Linked DNA regions of Homo sapiens. The protein of the gene in region 3 purifies or fractionates together with the protein of the main gene of each other region. This does not show direct contact. Each region holds a gene or a part of one and is shown on either strand. Other genes may lie near its edges.

Region 1 (7,000 bases), about 84 Mb from region 3:
TCCATTTGGCACATTTGCTTTCCAATTATTCTCAAGATCAGACATAATTAGAAAGACATCAATATATTTAAATATGGGCAATAATGATTCACAATGAGCTAACTATTTTAGGTTTATATTTTTCCTCAACATATGCTTCCCCATAAATTTATCAGAGCGTTATTTGAACAAAATATAGAGATTTAATAAATATTTGAAAAGTAACAAGGTTCTTTACATACTTTTTAAAAAAATACTTTTTGTTCCCAAAGTACCTCTACTTCATATTAGTTTTTATGCATAATCTACTAATTAGAATGTATTAACTCATTTTTACAGAAAATCAATGGTTTTATTTCTTTGCAGTGAGCCCCATGCACGGTTCTATGCAGCTCAGATAGTGCTAACATTCGAGTACCTCCATTCACTAGACCTCATCTACAGAGATCTAAAACCTGAAAATCTCTTAATTGACCATCAAGGCTATATCCAGGTATGACTTTAACACATTATGTGTACTGTATATGAGAAAATACTAGGCAAGACATTGTATGTATGTAACCCCAACTTGGAATTTTTTTTGAAGAAGACACTTTCTCCTAATAGTTTAAGTAGAGCTCAGAGTTTTGCTGCTATTACAGAGAAGCAAAAATCCTGTTATGAAAGGAACTTGTTTATATCTCCATTAATCTATAGTTGTGAACTGAGTATAGCCTCTTGCATAAGGAGATATTAATAGCTAAATCTATGAGCAGTTATTAGTGCCAGGCATATTCCACTTGTTTTACATGTATTATTTCTTTAATCCTGATAAACCTATGAAGTGGAAATACCATTGTTATCTTCATTTTAAGATTAACAAAACTAAGACATAGCAAGGTCATTTAGCCAATAAATGGTAGAGTCAGAATTTGAACCTAGGCAGTCTGATCCCAGAGTCCATGCCCTTTACGACTACAATATAACTGCCAAAGAATCCCTGACTACCAATACTGAACTCGTAGCAACGTTTTCTTTCCACTTCTACTACTAATAAAGTGGGAGCATTTCTTTTTACACAATTATTGATAGATTCTCCCATTGACGTTTTTACACTTCTGATGGTGCAACTAATGGCAGAGGACACATTGGGGTAAGGCAGACATTTAGCATTGTTTCATTTTTATTAATGCTATTTATTTTTACCTTTTATTTTCACTTTTTTATTCCTTGGGTCTAGGATCTTATAATAATGACTGAAAAGAGTTTTGTTGTTATTAATTTGTTCCTTTTCTTTGAGTTGAGGAAGGATTTCCAACTTGGATTGTTTAAACTTTCATTCACTAGATATTCATGAATGAATTTCAATTACGTGGACTTAATTTTTTTTCCATTTCTTTCATAGTTTCAATTTGAATTTTAAACTTTCAACGTAGGTGCAATAAATACATTTATTGTGAGGTAATACATTTTCACTAGTATTCTTTTTTTCTTTTATAGGTCACAGACTTTGGGTTTGCCAAAAGAGTTAAAGGCAGAACTTGGACATTATGTGGAACTCCAGAGTATTTGGCTCCAGAAATAATTCTCAGCAAGGTATATTCATAATATCAACACATAAGAAGTAGAAATATGAGACATGCATCCCTATGGACTTTTGTAAAAACAGTTTATTGATCTAATTTTACATTTTTAATTTGATCTAAGTTATGAATTTAAATCTATTTGTGCATGATTACTAAAGAATTATTATTTAGCATCTACCACTAATCCTGTAACCTCTGTCAATTTTAACTCTGGGTCTTAGAGATATAATATGAATAAATATGACCTCTAGATCCATGTTTTGCAACCAAAAACATAGTCTTTTCTTAATTATTCCTAGTAACGGAAGGGTAGAGAAGACTTGCTCTGGATTATACCAAGAGGTAAATCTAGAGATGATATGTACTAGTTGTCCATTCTTTCTTTGTTTCAAATTTACCAGTTAAATAAAAGGAATGTATGAGAAGTGTTTTTAAATTTTAAATAGGACTATTAACAGCAATTGAATAGTTTTAGTCTTATTGAAGGCAGCTCTGCTTTTCTAAATAGTGAAACGTGGTGAGAGAAACTGTACCTATATCCAAAAGAATGGTTAACTTTTCCTCTGCCATCACTTGGTGGAGAAATCTAGAAAGGAGAACCTAACAATAACCAGGCACAAATAGGAGAGAGGAAAAGGAAGGGGATAAGACACATGCTTCACTGGTTCCCAAATGGAATCATTGAAATATGGCTAACTTATAGAAGTGTTAAAATAAAAGATTTCTTTCAACTTTTCTCTCATTATCTTTCATAATTTAAATAATATGTAACTTCTTGATATTTTATAATCTAAATATCATTGTAGTTAACACATTTCTTTAAATACAGTTAACAAATAATGGGACAACAAAATGAGCACTAAAACTTTTACAAATGTGTATATATTGTAAAAGTAATACTCATTATACAAAATTTAGAAAATACAGAAAAACATAAACAAACAACCAAAAAAAAACCTATATGTAATCCCACCAACCTAGACGCAGCCTTTTTAAAAACATTCATATATGTATGTACATATATGTATATATGTGTATATGTGTATATATATACACCACATATATGTGTATATATGTGTATATATATACACATATGTGTGGTGTGTGTGTATATATGTATATGTGTATATATACATATATATTCATATATATGTGTATACGCATATATGTATATATGTATATGTGTATATATACATATATGCGTATATATACACATATATACGCATATGTATGCATATATATATGCGTATATATGCATATATGTATATATATGCGTATATATGCATATATGTATATATATGCATATATATATATATATACACACACATTTTAGCTTTATTTTAGCTTTCATTTTAGGTTCAGGGATACATGTGAAGGTTGGTTACAGACGTAAACTCATGTCATGGGGGTTTGTTATACAGATTATTTCATCACTCAGGAATTAAGCCCAGTACCCATAGTTATCTTTTCTTATCCTCTCCCTCCTCCCTACCTCCACCCTCAAGTAGAATCCAGTATCTGTTTTTTCCTTCTTTGTCTTCATAAATTCTCATCATTTAGCTCCCACTTACAAGTGAAAACATGTGGTATTTGGTTTTCTGTTCTGCATTAGTTTGCTGAGGATGATAGCCTCCAGCTCCATCCATGTTCATGCAAAAGACATGATCTCATTCCTTTTTATAGCTGCATAGTATTCCGTAGTGTATATGTACCACATTTTCTTTGTCTAGTCTACAATTGGTGGACATGTAGGTTGATTCCATGTCTTTGCTTTTGTGAATAGTGCCACAATGAATAAACAAATGCATGTGTCTTTATGATGAAATGATTTATAATCCTCTGGGTGTATACCCAGTAGTGGGATTGCTGGGTCGAATGGTAGTTCTGCTTTTAGCTCTTTGAGGAATCTCCATACTGCTTTCCACAATGGTTGAACTAATTTACACTCCTACCAACAGTGTCTAAGTGTTCACTTTTCTCTGCAACCTTGCCAGCATCTGTTATTTTTTGACTATTTGTTTATTTATTTATTTATTTATTTATTTTCTGGAGATGGAGTCTTGCTCTGTCGCCCAGGCTGCAGTGCAGTGGCGTGATCTCGGTTCACTACAACCTCTGCCTCCTGAGTTCAAGCGATTCTCGTGCTTCAGGCTCCCAAGTAGCTGGGACTACCGGCATGCACTACAACACCTGGTTAATTTTTGTATTTTTTAGTAGAGACAGGGTTTCACCATATTGGTCAGGCTGGTCTTGAACTCCCGACCTCAAGTGGTGCACCCTCCTTGGCCTCTCAAAGTGCTGGGATTACAGGGGTGAGCCACTATGCCCTTCCATTTTTTTACTTTTTAGTAATAGCCATTCTGACTGGTGTGGAATGGTATCTCATTGTGGTTTTGACTTGCTTGCATTTCTCTAATGATCGGTGATATTGAGCATTTTTTCATATCTTTGTTGGCCGCATGTATGTCTTGTTTTAGAAAGTGTCAGTTCATGTCCTTTGCCCACCTTTTCATGGGGTTGTTTGTTTCTTGTAAATTTGTTTAAGTTCCTCATAGATGCTGGATATTAGACCTTTGGCAGATGCATATGGTTTGCAAATATTTTCTCCCATTCTGTAGGTTGTCTGTTTACCGTTGATAGTTTCTTTTGCTGTGCAGAATCTCTTCAGTTTAATTAGATCCCACTTGACAGTGTTTGCTTTTGTTGGAATTGCTTTTGGTGTCTTTGTCATGAAACCTTTGTCCATTCTTATGTCCAGGGTGGCATTGCCTAGGTTGTCTTTCAAGGTTTTTATACTCCGGGGTTTTGCATTTAGGTCTTTAATCCATTTTGAGTTGATTTTTGTATATGGTATAAGGAAGGGATCTATCTTCAGTCTTTTGCATGTGGCTAGCCAGTTATCCCAGCACCATTTATTGAGTAGGGAAACTTTTCCCCATTGCTTGGTTTTGTCAGCTTTGTCAAAGATCGGGTGGTCGTAGGTGTATGGACTTATTTCTGGGTTGTCATAGTTGAAATCATAGTAAATATATATAGTCTTGTCTCTGACTTTTTTCACTTTTATAATAACAAGCATGCAAACATCATTCTAATGGCTTGTTTGTAAATGTACCATAAAATATGTAGCCACTCTTCTATCGTTGAGTGTTCAGGTTTTATTTTTGATTTTTTTATTATTATAAATAACTATGATAAACATCCTTATACATAAAAGTTTTTTCCTTATTTTACATTATTTCCTTAGCATATATTCCCAGAAGTAGAATTACTGGGTCAAGGAATAGGAACATTTTTAAGGCTTTTGATACATATTGCCAAATTGCTTTCCAAAGTTATTATGCCATTTTACACTTCTACCATTAGTGTATTATAGTGCCTATTTCATAACACTATCACTGGGTATACTCATTTTTAAAATATTTACTGATTTCATAGGCAATAAATTGTATCTCATTGTTTTAATTCTCATGTTTTTTATTTATTTTTCAAATGGTTAATAGCCATTTGGTATTTCTTTATGTGTCTGTAAATTATTAGTTCATTTCCTTGGCCCATTTATCTATTGTAATTTAACATTTTTCTTATTGATGTGTTTTGATTTCTATACCTTGGGTATTAACTTGTGTCTGACATATTTACTATAAACATTAGCACACAATTTAAACATATGAATCAAAAAGTTAAAGAGAGTTAATGCCTATTTCTATTAAAAAACAAAGTGCTATTCCTGTTATACCACTCCTTCCCTTAAAAAGATATACACAGTATCAGGAAAAAAAAGAGAAAAAGAAAATCTCTATAGCGCTAAAGTATTATATTTTTGCTAGAATTTTGAAAACTAAGTAGTTTGTAAAGCTAAAATTTTGACAAAAGGGTGGAATGTGGTGAGTCGTGATGGTAGAGGGTACCTCTGAGGGCAGAGCAATAGATCTGGGTAGAATTCAGCTTATTTCTCTTCATGACAGGTTTTTGGGGTTGTTAAAAAATCTCTTGTGTCAGTTGATACTGACCATAGTTAATAAACTATATTAGCATGTTAATATGAAGATGTTATTCTTATTTATTTTCTTATGAATACTTACAAATTTTAATTTTAGTAAGCTTAATATGAAAAAAACAAACATAACCTGTGATTTTTACATTTGGTTTGCAAAGCACTTTTTACACACGTTACTCCCTTTCATTTGATACAGTCCTCACAAAACTCTGTGAATTCATTTTTTTCCTGCATATCTTTTAGATATAGGAAGCAAGACAGTAGATAGCAGAAGTAAAGTATACCTAAATATTTACATGAATTGAATTTTACATTAAACTTTTTGCTTTCACAAAATCCTATGAAGCAGATGGGATTATCCCTAGCACATTCACCCTCCTAACTCCAAAAATATAGAGTATTTTGAAGTCAACTTCATTATTTACTATGTAGTCCAGTTTCTATTATTTTCTTTGAAAACTTTTGATCTTTCTAGGCATGCTGTGGAAAATCTGTTTCATAAGATTATGGACCTAGAGTGGGCCTTAAGAAGTAATGTGGTCTAACTGCCTTCCTGTTATTGAGCAAGAACTAAATTATACCAGTGAAATAAAGAAAATTTCATTGTCTATAATATTCTTAATAATTTTAGGAAGAAGATTTAATACTCTTTCCTAATATCCAATTTCAGTATCTGGAAATCCTCTCCTTTGTTTAATTTAAATCTGACCTGATACATTTGGTTCATTTTTAAATTCTGTCCTGAATAGCTGCTCAGCAATTGCTTTAAAAAAATTTTTATATGCTTCCAGATCATTTTGAAATTATCTTTGACTTCATTCTCTTTTGAGTAACTTAAGTAACAATTGACATTGGTGTTGGTTTATCTCAGGGCTACAATAAGGCAGTGGATTGGTGGGCATTAGGAGTGCTAATCTATGAAATGGCAGCTGGCTATCCCCCATTCTTTGCAGACCAACCAATTCAGATTTATGAAAAGATTGTTTCTGGAAAGGTAAGTAAAACATTTTATTATTCCTCTCTTATTACTGTATATGAATTTTAAGCTTCATGAATTGAAACTATATTGTGTCATAATTATTATTCTACATTGGGAAAAATATAGAAAAATCTACAGTTGCTGCTCTTACTATCATAAGAATTGAATCATTTCAGTCTCTTAAGAAAAAAAGGGCAGTTTTATAAAGAAATTAACAAAACAGTAAAGCAATTTCTGTATTTAGTATTTTTATCACAAAGAACAGGATCATAGCCATAATTCTCGATATTCCTTCAAATAAATAAAAATAGTTTATTATTTCATGTGTCTATCTTCATGGAGAAAAGTTTTAGGGGCTGTTTTATATGCCCTTCCATTTTCAGGAGAGACTTCTTGTTTTAATTATGTCCAATACTATAACATTGGAAGTAAAAGTAAATATAAAATGAATAAGCCTTTTTCAGATGGAAATTTATAGAA
Region 2 (7,000 bases), on a different chromosome or scaffold from region 3:
TTTGGCTGTTCCTCTGGCCCCTTCTCTGGGGAGGCCGGGCCTGGGATGGAGGCCTCGGGGGCTCGGGTAGCAGGTGCCCTTGGGGGGCTCAGCTGTCACCTTGGCCCCCAGCTGGCCCTGTTCCTCTCCGTGGCAATCGCAAGGGCATTGCTCCAGAGCTGGTTCAAGGGAAGTCTCGCCCGATGCCCACTCCTCGGCCCCATGGTATCCCAAGGTGAACATCACCGCCTGGCTAATGTTGAAACTTCCCCGGCAGACCCTGTGCCGGCTGCTGTCTACACTGTCTCATCTGACTCACTCGGCAACCTGCCTTGTATCCATTGTCTCCACTTAACAACCCAGGAAACAGGCTTGAAAACAGTCATTCTCGTCTCTGCTGAGACACAGCCCAGCAAAGTGGCTAAGGGCCAGGACTTGGGGTCAAGATCCAGTTCAGAGCCCAGCCTGGTCTCTGATGAACTCTGTGACTTTGGGTAACTGATCTCACCTCTCTAGGCCTCAGTTTTCCTCATCTGTAAAGTGGGGTGGTTTTGAGGAATGAATGAGTTCATCTTGACAAAGGGAGTTGAACAGTGGCCCCGTGTGATGATAGTGCCAGATAAATGTCAGCTATTATTATTTTTTATTTATCTATCTATTGACTGATTGATTGATTGATTGATTGAGACGGAGTCTCCCTCTGTCGCCCAGGCTGGAATGCAGTGGCGCAATCTCCGCTCACTGCAAGCTCCGCCTCCCGTGCTCACGCCATTCTCCTGCCTCAGCCTCCTGAGTAGCTGGGACTACAGACGCCTGCCACCACGCCCAGAGAATTTTTTGTATTTTTTTTAGTGGAGACGGGGTTTCACCGTGTTAGCCAGGATGGTCTCGATCTCCTGACCTCGTGATCCACCCGCCTCGGCCTCCCAAAGTGCTGGGATTACAGGCGTGAGCCACCATGCCCGGCCAATTTATTTTTTTTAATTATTATTATTTTTTTTTTTGAGATGGAGTCCCACTTTGTTGCCCAGGCTGGAGTGCAGTGGCACAATCTCAGCTCACTGCAACCTCCGCCTCCCAGGTTCAGATGATTCTCCTGCCTCAGCCTCCTGAGTAGCTGGGATTACAGACACCTGCCACCACGCCCAGCTAATTTTGGTATGTTTAGTAGAGACAGGGTTTTGCCATGTTGGCTAGGCTGGTCTCGAACTCCTGACCTCAGGTGATCTGCCCACCTTGGCCTCCCAAAGTGCTGGGATTACAGGCATGAGCCACCGTGCCCAGCCTATTATTTTCTAAATTGAGGTATAAAATATGGGGAGAGAGGCTGGGTGAGGTGGCTGACGTCTGTAATCCCAGCACTCTGGGAGGCCAAGGTGGGTGGATCACAAGGTCAGGAGTTCGAGACCAGCCTGGCCAACATGGCGAAACCCCATCTCTACTAAAAATAAAAAAATGAGGCCAGGCACGGTGGGTCACACCTATAATCCCAGCACTTTGGGAGGCCAAGGCGGGTAGATCACTTGAGGTCAGGAGTTCAAGACCAGCGTGGTCAACATGGTAAAACCCCGTTTCTACTAAAAGTACAAAAAAATCAGCCGGGCATGGTGGCAGGAGAATCGCTTCGACCCGGGAGGCAGAAGTTGCAGTGAGCTGAGATCATGCCATTGCACTCCAGCCTAGGCGACGGGGCGAGACTCTGTCTCCAAAACAAAACAAAAAAATTAGCCAGGCGTGGTGGTGATGTGTGCCTGTAATCCTAGCTACCTGGGAGGCTGAGGCAGGAGAATTGCTTGAATCCGGGAGACTGAGGTTGCAGTGAGCCGAGATTGCACCACTGCACTCCAGCCTGGGTGACAGAGCAAGACTCGTCTAAGAAAAAAAAAAGAAAAAAGAAAAGAAAATATGGGGAGCGATCGGGCATGGTGGCTCACGTCTATAATCCCAGCACTTTGGGAGGCCGAGGCAGGCAGATCACTTGAGGTCAGGAGTTTGAAACCAGCCTGGCCAACATGGTGAAACCCCGTCTCTACTAAAAATACAAAAATTAGCTGGGCACGGTGGCGCATGCCTGTAATCCCAGCTATTTGGGAGGCTGGGGCAGGAAAATCTCTTGAACTTGGGAGGCAGAGGTTACAGTGAGCTGAGATCATGCCACTGCACTCCAGCCTAGGCGACAGAGTGAGACTCTGTCTCAAAAAAAAAAAAAAAAAAAAAAAAAAAAATATATATATATATATATATATATATATATATATACACACACACACACACACACATAGGGAGAGCCGGGAACGGTGGCTCATGCCTGTAATCCCAGTGCTTTAGAAGGCCGAGGTTGGAGGATCGCTTGAGGCCTGGAATTAGAGACCAGCCTTGGCAACATAGCAAGACCCAATCTCTACAAAAAATAAAACAATTAAAAAATTAGCTGAGCATAGTGGCCCATGCCCGCAGTTTCAGCTAAGCAGGAGGCTGAGGCAGGAAGATTGCTTAAAGCCCAGGAGATTGAGGTTGCAGTGAGCTATGATCACACCACTACACTCCAGCCTGAGCAAGAGTGAGACTCTTTCTCAAAAAAATAATAATACTCTGGGAGGCCGAGTTGGGGGGATTGCTTGAATACAGGAATTCGAGACCAGCCTGGACAACATCAAAACCCTCTACAAAAAATAAAAACATTAGCCAGGTGTGGTGGTATGCACCTGTAGTCCCAGCTACTCAGGAGGCAGAGGTGGGAGGATTGTTCAAGCCCGGGACATAGAGCCTGCAGTGAGCCGTGACTGAGCCATTACACTGCAGGCTGGGTGACAGAGTGAGGCCCTGTCTCAAAAAAAAAAGTAATAATAAAAAAACCCCAAAAACAAATATAGGAGATACACTGAGTGCTCAAATCTTAAATGCGCAGCCTGACAGATTCTTGCATTATGGACTTGTCCTTTTAACCACCACCTAGGGCTACAAGGGACCAGCCCCTTGCTGAGTATTTTCTATGCTTCGTTCTCACCCTGTGGGGTGGGAGCTGCTGTTATTCCCACTGTACAGAGGAGAAGACTGATCAGGTCTGAGGTCACTTGCCTGCCCCCACATCCCATGAGATTAACTACTTCACTGCCAACTCAGCCATTGGTTTCAGTGCTGAGTCCAGTGCACCAGGGTGGCCAATGTGGACAGAGCTGCCTTCAACCCCCTGATGTTCCTGGGTTTGCTGCCACCGAGGGGCCCTGTACACTTGCCCTTTGGCATTGCTGGTTATCTGCCTGCCAGTAATCCCACATGGCCTTGTGGGGAGCCACCCCCACTACCTGTCTCCAGAGCTTTCCCTCAGCATTCAGAGAGAAGAGCCCTCATGGAGCTAGAAAGTGGTAGATGGTGGCTGGGTGCAGTGGCTCACGCCTGTAATCCCAGCACTTTGGGAGGCTGAGACAGGCAGATCACCTGAGGTTGGGAGTTTGAGACCAGCCTGACCAACATGGAGAAACCCTGTCTCTACTAAAAATACAAAATTAGCTGGGCGTGGTGGCACATGCCTGTAATCCCAGCTACTCAGGAGGCTGAGGCAGGAGAATTGCTTGAACCCGGGAGGCAGAGGTTGCAGTGGGCTCAGATCGCGCCATTGCACTCCAGCCTGGACAACAAGAGTGAAACTCTGTCTCAAAAAAAAAAAAAAGAAAGTGGTAGATGGCAGATGGAGAGAGACCGTGGCCAAGAAGGCCCCACAATAAATGACCAGGCGGAGAGGGGATAGGCAATGAATGGCCAGGAGTCCTAGATGGGTGCCTGGCTGGGCCACCAACTAGCCCAGGGGCCTGAGCCTGGGGGTCACACCAAATCCAACACTTTCACTAGCAGAACCTTTGTTTGAGTGTTTTATTTTGTTTTGAGATGGGGTCTTGCTATGTTGCCCAGGCTGGTCTCCAACTTCTGGCCTCAATGGATTCCCCCACCTTAGTCTCCCAAAGTGCTGGGATTACGGGCATGAGCCACTGTGCCTGGCTTCAGTCATAGAACCTTTGTGACAGAAAACATCTTCCTTGGAAACCTCCAAATAATCCACACAGAATTCAGCAGTGGGTGGGGAGGGTGGAGGGTGCCCTCTTGGGATTCTACCTTCACCCACACAAGAAGGCAGAGAGGTGCCAGGCTTGAAGGGAATCCAAAAGGTCTGGTCCGTTTTCCCTTTGCTCTTAGCAAAAAGGAAAGAATTGCTGAATCCTGCACCTCCCCGACTCGCTGAGCTCCCAGCCCCTGGCTGTCCGCTGGTGCCCCACAGAGTCGCTCCACAGGGTGCCTTGCTGTTAGCATGGCCCTTCTCTGGCCTCTCAAAGGACCAGAGCGCCCAGGCTCTGTCCCCTCTGGTGCCACTAGCCCTGTTAGCTTGTCAGATTTGGGGATGGGGCATGGGGGAGGCCAGTGCCAGGAGGAGCAGGCAGAGAGAGGGATGATGGGGGGGAGGGGCAGGTAACCTCAATCAAGAGGCCCCACACTCACCTCTGCTTCCTGTCTCTTCCAGGAAAGGGTAGAATAAAGGGTGGGTGGGATGGGGTGATCTGGCGGCCTTCTGCCCCCTGGCCAGGGAGGCTCAGGGTGCTGGCTGTGGCTTAGGCCCCCGGAAGGTGCGGTGCAGGTAGCCCAGGAAACGTACAGCCAGGTGGGCCCAGAGGAGCAGCTGCAGCCACAGCTGGAAGGTGGTCTCCAAGTCCCCACCCTGGCTGCTGCCTGATCCCAGATCCATCCCCAGCCCCCTTGGGCTCTCCCTGGAATCTTCCTTTTGCTGAGAAACCAGGAAAACGCAGAGCCTCTAAGTCAGCTTCCTTGGGATGGCCTCAGGGGACCAGGGAGGAGGAGCTGGTTGCCACAGAAGCTTTTAAAGGTACCTGCTCCAAGCTAGCCAAGGTTTGCAGAGGGCTCCCTTGGCAGGAGGCAATGGGAAGATTCTCCCGAGGGTGTCCCTCTGGCTGGCCTGCGTGCCCCAGGGCGGGGCGATAAAACTAACTTCCCTTTCCACGGACTTCACTGCTCCCAGGACGCCAGGCCCTGCCTTCCTCAGTGGGCACTGGACTGTGCAGAGGACAGCGCCTGATGTGCCCAGAGCAGTGCCCACTGGGCAGAGGGGAAAGAGTTAAGGTTCAGGATCAGGCAACAGCCAGAGACTCCTTAGGGGCTAAAGAGGCCCCAGAGCTCCCTTAATTCGCTGAAAGAACAGCTGGAGAGAAAGGCTTGGGGCGGGGGGCGACAAGAGCCACCCTGCCTCCTCCCCTGAACTCCCTTTCAATGTGGAACCCCCAAATCCTGCTATCCTGAGAGAGAAAATGGGTATATCTGACTCTTTTGTTTTGCTCCTATGCGGGGGTGGAGAGGGGAAAGGCATCCCGGGATGTCCTTGGCCTCTCTCAAACCTTGCCCTGTGCTTGGCTCTACTCTCGGCCATGAAAGTCCAAACCGGAAACGAGCGGCTAAACCCAGGGGTGGGGGAGGGGGAGGCAGCCTTGACCATCTTCCTCCTTCTTTCCAGATCCCAAAAGAAGCAGAGGGTCAGTGGCAGCCTCTTTGAGTGTGCCCGGCATCCAGGACCCCTGCTAGCAACAGGAAGTGGCAGAGGATGGTAACCCAGCCAGCTGCTGGCCTGTACAGCCTGCCGCCCTGCCCACATCTCCCACACGGGGGGTGCCAGCTCTCACTCTGGTCCAGATTCCATTTGGGTTCATAGGGAAAACTCCTTGACACCCCTTGAAAAGCCAGGACCACAGCAGAAAGCAGAAATCTAGAAACTCGCCCTGGGAATGGGGAATTGCAACAGCAGAATATCAATTTGGGCAAGGGGCTTGGGGTCTCTCTCGGAAGGAGCCCAGCCACAGAACCCCCTTCCTCCGGACAACAATCTCAGACCTTCTGCCCTTTTGAAATCTGGCTGTCCTGGGAATTCTGGGGCAGGAATGCCCAGCCTGGGCTGGGCCCCCTACTCGAGGCTGGCTGATTCCTCCAGTGGAGCCTGGATTCCCTGCTCTGGGCTTACCTAAATGACACAACTCTGAGCTGGACCCCAACACTGGCTGGAACGACCCCCATTCTGAGCTGGACCCCAACACTGGGATGGCTCATCCTACAGTCTGAGCTGAACCCCAACACTGGGATGGACCACTCCACCACCCCTCTCTGAGCTGGCCCCCTGCCGGGTGGACCATCCTCCCTTGTCTGAACTGGGCCACCGATCCCCTCTCTCTTCCCCAGGCCGCACAGCCCGGGGCTGTACAGGAGGCGTTTCCAGGGCCAGCCAGGGGTTCACATCCTTCTTCTCTTCGCCTGTGCCCCAGACCCCGCTGCAGCCCCTCCCTGACTTAAGGGGCAGAGTGTGCCTAGGAAGTTGCTATAGTAACAGGACTCAGCCTCACCATCGCTGGAGTTGGAAGCCATCACTCAGTCCTGTTCTCAGGGCACCGGCACTACGGTGGCTGGGAAGGCTCATGAGACCTGCCGTGTCTGTTCGGCTGTCTGTCCCCAGAACCCTGCCTGCAGGGGGAGCTAGGGAGCCGTGGGGTGGGAGCAGGAAGAGAAACCCAACCCAGAGGCCACTGGGTGTGGAGGAGGGACAGATAGGGCCCTCCGAGTTTCTGTAGACGCGGTTGCGCTAAGGGGAGAGCTGCCTTGATAAGACCTCTTGGGCACCCATACAACTGCCAAGGCACAGAAGGTGTTTGGCCGTCTTAGGCATCCATAGGATGTTACACGGCACTAGTTCTTCCCATCTAGGGTCTTCTTGGGGGGTGCTTTTCTCTCTTTGCCAGGATCTGCTTGTGTCCTGGGGATCGGGGGCTCCCTTTTACTAGCTCTGCCCCTTCCCCTGTGGGCCAGCTCCCAGGGGTATCTTCAGCCAGTGCCAGCCACGACCTGAGCCCCACTTGGCTGTCTGACCTGGGCGCCTGCCCCCTGGGGCCGCTGCTCCCTCTCCATTCTTCCAACTTGGCCAGAGCCTGGGCCTTAGTCTTTTTTCTTGGCCCTCTCAGCTCTCCCAATGGCTTTG
Region 3 (6,016 bases):
CCTCAGTTCTAGGACTGGTCCGCAGAGAAAGCACCCAGGAGCAGAGCGCTTCGGAGCGGTCCTCAGTGGCGCCACCTGCTGGTGCTAATAGGGACAGCCACAGGCCTCTTGCAGACTGGCCCACCCTGCCTACTTCCCTACTGACAAGTTCTTTGGTATTTCAAAAGGGAGAAACCACTATAAAAGACAAGAGGAAGGGCAGGTACTAGGTGTTTCATTTCCAGAATTAAAAAAAAAATCCATTTAAGACGTACCACTGTTTTACCGGACTGAATGGGACTGTAGTGCCAAGCACAGCCAGGAAATAGAGAAACTGTTATTATGGAAGGGAATTTGTTCACATGGGAAAGCCTCATTAAATAGATTCTATGTGTGATGTTTGAGTGACCAATGAAAATAGCTGGCCTCAGTTCTGCATGGCACACTCCCAAGAGCAACAGTTACTATTATCACAAGCCTGGTATAAATAAGATAGAAGCAGCCCTGGACCCACAGCCAGCAACCTGGGTTATTGGCCCAGCTCTGTCTTTGTGTGCACATGTCATTTGGACATCTTGTCACCTTTCTAGGTCCTCTGTAAAGTGGGAAAACAGAGTGGAGTTGGATTGAATGGTCTCCAAGATCATTTCCAGCTCTGACCTTTGGTGTTCTCAGGATTTGTAAAGCAGAGATAGGTAAAACACAAAAGCAGACCCACGGACCGACCTTTGTATAACTTTGGAGTGTGGTTGCTCATGCACATGTGAAGTGCAGGCAGATCAAGGTTCTGTGGCTTTGTCTGCCCTGTCCATTAGAGCACAATCTGGATAGAATGCCAGCCACCAAGATGCATGAGGGGCAGGGTCACCATCTCAGAAGGGGAAGCACAGGAATGTGATTGGGATGGTTAAACCTCTCTTCTCCTCCCTTTGTGCTGGAACAGCAGTTGAAGTTTGGTCCTGGAGTAATTGCTGTGATGACTTGGGAAGCCACTGATCTCCTCTTGCGTCTGCCCTTGGCCTGCATCATGACTAAATAAGTTCAGGACTTCTCTGCTTTGGTTGGCAGAAGGTAGATTCCAAGGAGATCTTGCTGGTTGCTGAGAGGCAGCTGTTCTAGAAAGTGAATTACCCTTGTGGTTTTTTCTTTGGGGCCCAGCTAGCTCCTGGTGAGGTTGTGTTTTTGTGTTGTGTGGCAGAAACCAATGGTTAGCTGGTCCCCTGGTCTGCAGTTTGTAAAAGACCTTTCATGAGGCCTGGAGTCTTGCTACCTGTGGTGATTGAACTCAACTATTCTGGGTCACCTGGATGCCAGGCGCTGGCCTAGCTTCTGGATGGGAGTGGGAAGGAGCAGAGGGCAGGTTCACCTGTGCAGGTCAGACACTCTGCTTCCATCACTGGATGGCATTCCTACGTCTGCGTGTGGTTCACGTTTTCTATATATATTCCCTGTATATATTTTTTTCTAGCACTTGTCTACTTTCTGAAGGGACCATATTCCTGATCAACTAGTGTGCACAGAGGTGGAACAGGGCAGAGAGACCTTTATCTCTAGGATGGGTTGCTGGTTAGGTGTAGGCATTCTTGAGTGCAGCAGCTTGGCTTTGAAACGCAAGGGTTGGAGAATGTTCCCCTGACTGTACTAGACTGGGCTCTAGGGAAAGAATCCTGAGACAGCCCCCCACTCCCCCACTGACCCCACACTAGCTGGGCTATTATAGAATTTAATCTAAATCTAGAAATACTGCATTTCACAAAATGATTCACTGTGTTTCCCTTTTTTTACTGAGGTCCAATTCATTTAGTCGTCTACCAGACACTGCACATCCAGTGTATGCGAAGCACCAGGCTAGGCTCTGTAGGCAATACCACTAAAGTGTGCACTCTGATTTAGGGAGCAGGACCTGTGGATACCGATTCTAATAACTAGCAAAGTCAAGTCGTGGTTATAGAAAGAAGTGTGGCTTCAGAGGGAGGTGGGTATTTCCAAATATGGAGTTAGGGATGGCTCCATGAGGTAAGTGACAGTTTGAGCTAAGTCTTGAAGGATGCTTGGCAGCTAGAACCATATTTTCCATATTCAGGAATTCAAATTTGCCTTTATTCAGCTAGAGAGAAAGAGAGAAGGGGGTGTGGGGGAGAAGGAAAAGAGAATTTTCACACATTTTGAAGTTCCTGAGAGCATTTCTGAGGATATCTGCCGTTAGTGCAGAAGGTCGAAACCCCAAGTGCCCCCACTAAACCCAGGCTCTTTAGCTGTAAACTGCCATGCAGTGGCAGGCCTGCAGCCTTCCTGATGGGACCACATGGACAGTGGCACATGGGACATTTGGCTACTCGTTAGCTTAAACAACTCAGTCCTGTGTCTTCTGGTTTTGACAAGACCACATTTAGGACTGCTGCCCACCTCTGCCTCTTTCATTGAGATTTCCGCCTTATTGGGTCCCTGTGCTATGCCACAGATACCAGGTTTGGGGTTGTTTTGACCCAGAAGGCATTGGGAGTCCCACATTACAGAGCACACACACAGCTCAACACAGCCATTTCCCTGGCCAGAGGCACCAAGACTGAAGTTCAGGCCCTTAGACACTAGGTGGCAGCGGTGTGGCTGTGCAGAGCCAAGGATGAACCTGAGAGCTTGTTTGCCTCTGGCTGGGCACTCTTGTTTTGAATTCCTTTGCCCTTATCGTGTAGTCCACGGCCTTGGTGACCAAGGACCACCTGGCTAGCCTGCTTACATGCATGACCCCATCCAGGTTCACAGGTATTGCCACTGAGTGATCTTAGGTAGATCACTGCTCCTGGAGAAGCAGAGTTGAGGAGTGTAAGACAAGGGCCATCTAGTGCCAATGTTCCTTGATTCTTATTTGAGGAGCTACTATGTGGTCTTTCTGTAAACAAGTGAACAACCAATGAGACTAAATATTTGCAATAGATAGGCTAAGGAATTTGGGTTGAGACAGGAGACGGAGGAAAAATGCTTTGATACAATGACAGATGGTTAGTCTCTTCAGATTTCCCTGAATATTTTCCATCCCGACAATATGCCTCTTAGATACTTGCAGATTAGACATGTCTCTGGATGGACCACAAGATACATTCACAACATGTGTTCAGCCTTGAGCCCTGGCTGTGTCCTGTCTGGAAGGAACTGAGGATGATGTGGCTATAAAGAGGAGGCAGTGAGCTGGCATGTGACTGCCTTCTGTGGGCCTGACCTGTTTGACATTTGAGGGCCTATGATGTGCTAGGTGCTGTGTTAGGTACTTCCAAATGCTTTATCTCATTTTACCCCAGTGCAAGTGTGATATAGTGAGGATGGTGAAGACGTGGGTATGGTTAAGTCATGAGTTCAGATCCCGTGCTTCCAATTACATGGGTGTTTTCAAACAAGTCACTACTTATGAGTTTCCTCATCTGTGAAGGGAAGTTTAGTCATCTGTTTCAATGTGGAGACACACAGGATTGAGGGAGTCCTCCGTCACAGGGTGACTGTCTGGATTCTATGAGGAAATACTTGGAAAGCATGCAGCACAATGCCTGGGGTGCAGCTGAAGCTGAGCCACTGGTGTTTCTTCACAGTATCTCTGTGGGGAGGGTGTATTATTCCTTTTTATAGGGATCTCTATAATGAAGTGAGAATCTTGAAAATATAAGTGTTATCCTAGATGGGAGGTGTTAAAGGTTTTTGCCTTGGGAATTTTGTCATATTTGTTGCACAGCAAGGAAGGACTTTCAGAAAAGCAGGGATGTGGTGAGGAAGAGCAGGCAATAGAGAGCAGGGAGGAAAGGCTAAGTAGCATCTGGAACTTGAGAAGTCTAAGGGAGCCAAAATGAGATTTTCTATTAAAAATGTCTATCCTCAGCCGGGCGTGGTAGCTCACGCCTGTAATCCCAGCACTTTGGGGGGTCGAGATGGGCAGATCACCTGAGGTCAGGAGTTCGAGACCAGCCTGACCAATATGGAGAAACCCCGTCTCTACTAAAAATACAAAATTAGTTGCGCGTGGTGGTGGGCGCCTGTAATCCCAGCTACTCAGGAGCCTGAGGCAGGAGAATCACTTAAACCCAGGAGGCGGAGGTTGCAGTGAGCCGAGATCGCGCCATTGCACTCCAGCCTGGGCAACAAGAGCGAAACCCCGCCTAAAAAAAGAAAAAAAAGAAAAAGTCTATCCTCTATGCTACTGGCCTGTTTGTACAAAGATAAAATCATTCTAATTTGTCCGGAATGACTATCAAAGATGATCAAATCCCCAGGGCCTGGTGTAACGTTCCAAATCATAGCACAAATACAGCTTGACCTTCCTTACAGTCCAGAAAGGACATTCTCCCTGAGAAATGCCCTTGGTTGCTGAGGACAGCTCTGTCCTGTAGTGACAGAGTGACTGCCTGGCTGTGGCTCTTGGGTTCACAGAATCCCTAATCCTCCAAGCCCCTAAGAGGCAGGGCAGGGATGCTACCCACAATATATGCAGAACCCCAGATGGAGCCTGTGGGAGAGAGAGGAAATTACCGTCTTCACTGTAGGCAAAGGAGAATGGCTGTGATTAGCCATATATGCCTATAAGAAGGAGCAGAGCCATACTGTCCTTGTGGGTTGGGAGAGGGGACACAGAATCCAGGGCAATTGTCTGAGGTCTCAAAGTAAGTTAAGCCAGAGTCAAAGCCAAACTCCAAGTCTTGGCCAAGGGGATGAGAAAAGCAAGGAGCTAGTCTTATAGGTCAAGGAAGATGAGGTATAGTTAAGAGTCATCAGTATCACAGAACAGGCCAGCAGGGCTTTATTAGGTATGTAGAACTATTATAAACCAAGGATCTTGGGAGATATTAATATCTGCTGGCCAGACCTAAAAAAAACTGAAGGCCCAAGGAAAGTGACTGGACTCACTGGAAAGTATCTAACAAATACTTTGGATTCCAAAGTATTTCCAATACCTTGAAGATTCCTTTGAAAACATCAAAGCACAAACTCAAATCTGCACAAGATTACAAAAGCACAATTTTGGTGTTATTTTTAGAATGCAATACACAAAGCTATGTTCATTTCTCTCAGCAAGCATTTTCCTGGGTAGTAGTAATAGCTTAGGAATCAAATGCCACTTTTGTTTTTCCTTTTTTCACTAGTTTGAAATACCACAAATCACAGGTGAGTCAGTCCTCCCAGAGGAAAAGACAGTCCTAGGGAGAATCACAGGCCTGGCAGACAAGACCACACTGAGAGCAGTAGAAGGAACCTGCATGCTTAAGGGACAGAGGACTGTGTTGTGTTCTCATAATAGACCGCTGGATGAAGAAGTGGTTAAAAACCAACCCTCGAAAAACAAAAATCCCTGGCTAATCCTGAAATATATTTAACTTGAAGTCTTTGGATGATTTTTTTAAGGTTAAAAAAAAGTTTAGGATTATTATAAATCAATATTTATAAATAAGCAACAATGTATTTGGAATTTTTGTTTACCTGATTAAATATGTTTTTGGTATGTGTATACTGTGGAAATGGTGAATTTGTACTTGGACTTGTGGTCTGTGGACTTTGTTGGGTGCCTCTGCCTTTCTCCCATTTTCTGCAGCCATATCCCTATTGTCAACCTCCCTTCCCATGGGCTAAAGCGAGGGAGACTGAGCAGAAAGGGGTGGATTACTGCAGAATTGGTGGGGGAGTGCCCATACCAGAGTCACCTGCAAATACTCATCCATGCATTTTCATAAATTCCTCCAAGGCAATTAAATTCAGATAACTGTTTAAATGACCTACTTCTCACCATGCCCAAGAAACACTCTTAACCCAGAGTTTTTATGGGAGCTATGCCCTGTCTATCCATCTACAGATGTATTTTCTACCCCATAATCAAAAGTCAAAGAGGGCAAGAGGCAGATTATCGTTACCATTGAGACTCAGAACCACCTCGGGGCACGAAACCCACCTTTTCCTGACCCCCTTACCTGCTACCACTGAAATCATCTTCCAAGTGGATGGTGGCCCTACGGTCCAGTTTGCTGAGCTTTCTGGGGTCCTCTGACACACACCCAATCTTGGA

The links. The genes of interacting proteins can lie anywhere in the genome.
Region 1: the proteins of GPR161 (region 3) and PRKACB purify together in Homo sapiens (affinity purification with mass spectrometry; 3 studies listed by BioGRID and IntAct, with this or other methods). This does not show direct contact.
Region 2: the proteins of GPR161 (region 3) and PRKACA purify together in Homo sapiens (affinity purification with mass spectrometry; 4 studies listed by BioGRID and IntAct, with this or other methods). This does not show direct contact.

Annotation. Positions count from the first base shown.
Region 1 is NC_000001.11:84,196,271-84,203,270, forward strand, and holds part of PRKACB (cAMP-dependent protein kinase catalytic subunit beta), read left to right. Parts: intron 1-345; coding exon 346-472; intron 473-1,458; coding exon 1,459-1,554; intron 1,555-6,412; coding exon 6,413-6,535; intron 6,536-7,000. UniProt on the Homo sapiens protein: Mediates cAMP-dependent signaling triggered by receptor binding to GPCRs.
Region 2 is NC_000019.10:14,107,763-14,114,762, forward strand, and holds part of PRKACA (cAMP-dependent protein kinase catalytic subunit alpha), read right to left. Parts: intron 6,430-7,000; exon of another isoform or gene 6,394-6,429; coding exon of another isoform or gene 6,372-6,393; intron 4,715-6,371; coding exon of another isoform or gene 4,562-4,714; intron 629-4,561; exon of another isoform or gene 223-628; coding exon of another isoform or gene 1-222. Other genes in the region: SMIM46 (small integral membrane protein 46), read right to left, coding at 4,562-4,714.
Region 3 is NC_000001.11:168,078,990-168,085,005, reverse strand, and holds the end of GPR161 (G-protein coupled receptor 161), read left to right. Parts: 3' UTR 1-5,464; downstream 5,465-6,016. UniProt on the Homo sapiens protein: Key negative regulator of Shh signaling, which promotes the processing of GLI3 into GLI3R during neural tube development.